Linked DNA regions of Homo sapiens: region 2 is linked to region 1. A link means that fine-mapping ties the variant in region 1 to the expression of a gene that starts in the linked region. Tissue or cell type: unexposed skin. Region 1 holds a variant in brackets; the other region holds the start of a gene. All regions are shown on one strand. Distances are between the middles of the regions.

Region 1 (2,761 bases):
AGAAGATAGAAGAGGGAAGCTCAGAGAGCCACAGGGCCATGCCAGCCTTGGAGTACTATAGTAGTACTCTATGTTGCTGAAGTTTCTGGGTCCATGATCGCCCTAAGCCAAATCAGAATTTCATTCGGATGGAAGGAGGGGGAAGAGGAAGGAGAAGGATTTGATGTAGAGTAGGTAGCAGTAATATCAGGCAGATACATTGCGTTAAGATATTCTTAGTTTTTTTCCATAGCAAAGCGTTGATCTCATTTAATGAGTGAATGAATTGTTTGTACATAAAGGCTGGAAAGGAGAAAAGGAATGATGATTAACTAATGGAATAAGAGGTATGTAAATGAGCTTTCTGATTAAGAGAGATGAGGGGTTGGGAGCTCAGACACCAGGGTCCTTTCACTCAACTCTGCTACTGCTACTGAATCAGCAATGACAATGGTGCTGTAAGCTCTTGAGATCTGAAAATAAGAAATACAGGTAGGGCTGGGCATGGTGGCTCACGCCTGTAATCCCAGGACTTTGGGAGGCCAAGACAGGAGGATCACTTGAGCCCAGGAGTTCAAGAGTAGCCTGGGCAGCATAGCGAGACCCCATCTCTACAAAAATAAAAAAAATTATCCAAGTGTGGTGGTGCATGACTATAGTCCCAGCTACTCAAGAGGCTAAGGTGGAAAGATTGCTTGAGCCCAGCATTTTGATGTTACAGTGAGCTATGATCACACCATGGCACTCTAGTCACGTCAACAGCAACAGAGCAAGACTCTGTCTCTAAAGAAAAAAAAGAGAGAGAGAAAGAAAAAAGAAATACAGAAAGAAGAGAGATTCTAAGTTGTAGATAGATATTGGCCTCAGTATAGTCTCAAATCCTTTGTGGATGCAGGAAGCAGGTATGATGGACATTATAAGTAAAGTTGTTTTAATACTTCAGTTGATTTAGTATTATACCTTCCAACTTAGTTGGTCAGAGCACAAATTCTGATGCAGAGAAACTTGGAGAGTTAGATCCATGGGGCATTGTTCAGGAGGTGGGTATAGTTCAAGTAGCTACTGAGAAGGGTGACCCCAGAAGTAAACTTCATGAACTCAGTTTTGGCTGATCAGCATGAGGACTTCATGTACATACATTACAGACATCTGCTACATCACTGGAAGGTGGCATGTATTGTATATGTTCTACTGTGTAACCTATTACAAGGTATGTAACTCCCTTGATAGGTACATATATATACACACACCCCACATGGCCAGAAGAGCTGACACACAGCTAACTCCATGTTGTAAATAGCACACATTCCCCTTGGGTACACATAAGAATAGTGACAGAATGCAGAGCACAGTGGCTCACGCCTGTAATCCCAGCACTCTGGGAGGCTGAGGTGGGCAGATCACTTGAGGTCAGGAGTTCGAGACCAGCCTGACAAACATGGCAAAACCCTGTCTCTACTAAAAATTCAAAAATTATCCGGGCATGGTGGCGGGCGCCTGTAATCCCAGCTACTCGGGAGGCTGAGGCAGGAGAATCACTTGAACCCAGGAGGCAGAAGTTGCAGTAAGCCAAGATCGCGCCACCTTAGTCCAACCTGGGCGACAGAGCGAGACTCCATCTAAATAAATAAATAAAGAAAGAATAGTGACAGAGGTGCATGC[G/C]ACAAGGTCTGCCACACATGGTGGTCATCCTATTACATACTGTGAAGTATGAGTTTCCCAAAGGCAGTGTATCGTGTGTGCAATTCTAATAAGAGTGGTCCTTTTGGTGTAGGCTGGAACTTAAAAAAGTTGTTCCAACTGTGACAGGTATACATATTTGCCATGGTTGGGTTCCTCTGTCATACAGAATTGTATTCCTTTCTTTTTTTTTTTTTTTTTTTTTTTTTTTTTTTTGAGATGGAGTCTCGCTCTCGCCCAGGCTGGAGTGCAGTGGTGCGATCTCAGCTCACTGCAGGCTCTGCCTCCTGGGGTTCACGCCATTCTCCTGCCTCAGCCTCCCGAGTAGCTGGGACTACAGGCGCCCACCACCACACCCAGCTAATTTTTTGTATTTTTAGTAGAGACGGGGTTTCACCGTGTTAGCCAGGATGGTCTCGTTCTCCTGACCTTGTGATCCTCCCGCCTCGGCCTCCCAAAGTGCTGGGATTACAGGGGTGAGCCACCGTGTATTCCTTTCTTTGTAAGCATTTACTTGTTTTGTATACTCAGTTGTTAGTTATTTGTTTAACGTCTGTTTCCCCTCTGACTCATCTTCTTAAGAGCCAGAGCCATGTCTGTTTTGCTCAGCACTGTACCCTCAGAATCTTTCATAGAACCTGTCAGCCTTTCTCAACTGTGGCTCTTCATCTGAATCATGGAACACAGAACATGATTTGAGGGGCTACTTTCTCATTTCTCTCAATGCCTCATAACTAGTAGCATTCTAGATGACTAGGAAAGAAATCAATTCATTATGTAGATTGGATACTTTAGGACATGAGGGCTTACTTTTTTTTATGGAAACTTGGTTGAGAAAGTGTAGAAGAGACCAATTGATACAGATGTATTCTGTTGCAAACTGAGGGTGAGGGAGGGATGACCCCTCCAGTGCTGCTTTCCAGTAGTAGGGTAAACGTTGGTTAGCTCAAAAACAACAAATGACCACTCATCTCTCAGTAAATATTTATTTATTTATTAAACTTATTGAGACAGGGTCTCGCTGTGTCACCCATGCTGGCGTGCAGTGCTACAGTCATGGCTCACTGTGGCCTGACCTCCTGGGCTCAAGCGATCCTCCTGT
Region 2 (2,761 bases), 71 kb before region 1:
CAATAACCCAAATACGTAGTAAGTGCCTCCTATGTGCCAAATGTTTTATTATATTATCTCAACAGAGTCTCCGCCAAGATGCTCTCCTACTCCGTTTTACTGCAGGGGAAATTGAGGTTCGGCGCGGTTTTCCCAGATCGCGGCTCCCGAGTGGCACAGCCGGGACGCGAATCCACCGCTCCCCGCCTCCAAGCTCTTCACCACAGCGCCGGGGTGCACGCCTGGAAAGTTGAGCCATGCGGGCACGAGTCCGGCTGGGTCCGGAGGGCGCGAGTCCCGGCGCCGCCGCCCCCCACGGCCAGTACCCACACCCGGCCGTCCGCCCGCGCTGACCCTCGGGGTCCGGGCAGCCACCGATTCCCCGCCACCCTTGCGCGAGGCCGATCCTGCACCCGGAGCCACGTACCTGGACGCCCCGGCTGCCCGCCTCGCGGGCCCCACGATCGCGGCGTCCAGCTCCGCGCCGCTCGCTGGAGACGCCGCCAGCTCCGGTGGCCCGAGTGACTTCCAGGCTGCCCACTTCCAAGCCGCTTCGCGCGAGTCCTCCTGGGAACTGTAGTTTCGCCCTAGCCGGCCGCGAACTCAAAAAGAGAATGGCGCGCGGGGGCTGCCGGGAGCCGTAGGCGCACCGCCGCGCTGCCTCCTAGGAACGGTAGTCCGCTGGTCGCCTTCGTGCAGCTCCAGTCTGTAGAGCACTTCCGCAGCCCCGAGGGGCGTGAGGGAGGGAGGTGTGTCTCCTGCAGACTACAGCTCGAGAGCCGCGCTCTTCGCCCCGCCGGGGCGGTTTCTCCTTTCTCCTGGCCCCGTCTACCTCCTCCCTTCATTCGGCGGAACCTCTCCCTCACTCTCTGCCAGGCTCGAGTCACTTACCCCTAGGACGCTAGCCCGGGGGAAACGGGGGAAGCGGAGCAGTGCGCTAGACCCCCAGCGGAGGGGGCGGTGGAGGAGGGCGTAGATGCACGCCCGCGCACGCGCGGTCGTCGGCAGACCCCGGCCTAAATTGCCGCGGGACCCCGCGGAGAGGATTTTTTTTTTTTTTCTTTCGAGAGCGCGCGCGCGTTCTCGCGCCGGGCGCGCGCCCATGCGCACGCGCGTTCAGACCCCTGGCCTCGGGAAGTCCGCCGGCTGCGGGGTTGGGGGCCAACCGTTCTGTGGGCGGAGTCCTCTCGCAACATCCGCCAGGTAGCTTCTTAGTTGCTGCCCCTAGCTCTAGGAGCTCCTGAGTGCACACGCCGTACCCGTCCCTTGTCGGGAATCCTGTCGCAGGTAACAGGCGCAGCCAATGCTTTGAGATAGAGACGCCCTGCCTTCCCTGCCACGTGCAGGAGGCCCGAGGGTGAGGGGCCCCAGGTGTAGTCGCCTGTCCCCGGCGTAGGCGGCTCCAGAGCTCTGCCTTCGACGGGAGCCACAAGACCCAGGGGCTGCCTAGGGGCCTTGTTATCTTGCATTCTTTTGTTGATCGCACATTCCTGAGGGTAACTAGTGTTTGTAGAGTACCTACACCTTGGGAAATTTTGTCCAAATTTAATCCACCTGGTGACATAACCAAGCAGCGGAATACCCCGCAACACACACTCCTTTTTTAAGGTATATTGCCACTCCTCCATAAGAGTTACCGAGGGAATTGACTGGAATTGCAAGGTCCTCTGGTGGAGAAGCCGGAGTCAATACCCTTTCCGCCTCAGCCTGCCTTCTAGGAAGATGTTCACTAACACTTGAAGCTGGGAAGCATATGTTTCTTCCTGGGAGAGCACATTTTTCCACTCATTCAACAAAAATGGATTAACCACCTATTCCATGTCAGGTTGGGTGATTATGGAGACACAAGAGAAATCCAGACAGACTGGACTCCTACCTTCAGGGAGTTTTCAGTCCAGTAGGGATATCAGGCCACCACCAGACTACAACAATGTAGAGCAATACTAGCTAAGAGAAATATACCCTGCACTTTGAGCCACCGAGGCAGGAGGATCACTTAAGGCCAGGAGTTGGAGACTGGCCGGGTAACATAGCAAGACCCTATCTCTACTAAAACTAAAAAACTAGCTAGGCGTGGTGGCATGTGGCCATAGTCCCAGCTATTTAAGAGGCTGAGTATCGCTTAAGCCCAGGAGTTTGAGACTGCAGTGAACCATGATTGCACCACTGCCCTCCAGCTTGGGCGACAAAGCAGAACCCTGTCTCTTTAAAAAAAAAAAAAATTATATATGTGTGTGTTTTTATGTGTAATGCAAGCCACATATGCAATTTTAATTTTGACATAAACAGGTAAAATTCATTTTATTTATCATTATTATTTACTTTTTTTTTTCTTGCTATGTTGCCCAGGCTGGTATTGAACTCCTGGCCTCAAGACATGTTCCTACCTCAGCCTCGCAAAGTGCTGGGATTATAGGCGTGAGCCATCTCACCCAGCTATGAAATTAATTTTAATATTTTATTTAACCCAAATATATCCAAAATATTATTCCAAGTTAGGTTAATGGAAAAATGTTTTCATTGCTTCAGTTCTACTTTTTTTTTTTTTTTTTTTGGAGACGGAGTCCCACTCTGTCGCCAGGCTGGAGTGCAGTGGCGCCACCTCGGCTCCCTGCAACCTCTGACTCCCTGGTTCAAGTGACTCTCCTGCCTCAGCCTCCCAAGTAGCTGGGATTACAGGCAGGCGCCATCACACCCAGCTAATTTTTGTATTTTTAGTAGAGACTGGGTTTCACCATGTTAGCCAGGATGGTCTCGATCTCCTGACGTGATCTGCCAGCCT

What was found. PIP is the estimated chance that this variant, and not a neighbour inherited with it, causes the effect.
Region 2: it holds the start of WDR87, and the variant in region 1 is fine-mapped to the expression of WDR87 in unexposed skin (GTEx, PIP above 0.99). The same link has a PIP of 0.9 or more in sun-exposed skin.

What each region holds. Positions count from the first base shown.
Region 1 is chr19:37,833,777-37,836,537 of GRCh38, reverse strand. It overlaps the pseudogene WDR87BP. Among named protein-coding and RNA genes, the nearest start is that of ZNF573, 56 kb to the right of the region's middle. The variant G/C (reference allele first, on the strand shown) is at 1,642.
Region 2 is chr19:37,905,004-37,907,764 of GRCh38, reverse strand. WDR87 (WD repeat domain 87) reads left to right here and starts at 1,171. Exons shown (of 6, transcript NM_001291088.2): 1 at 1,171-1,266. SIPA1L3 (signal induced proliferation associated 1 like 3) reads right to left here and starts at 557. Exons shown (of 22, transcript NM_015073.3): 1 at 407-557. RefSeq lists a silencer at 206-445.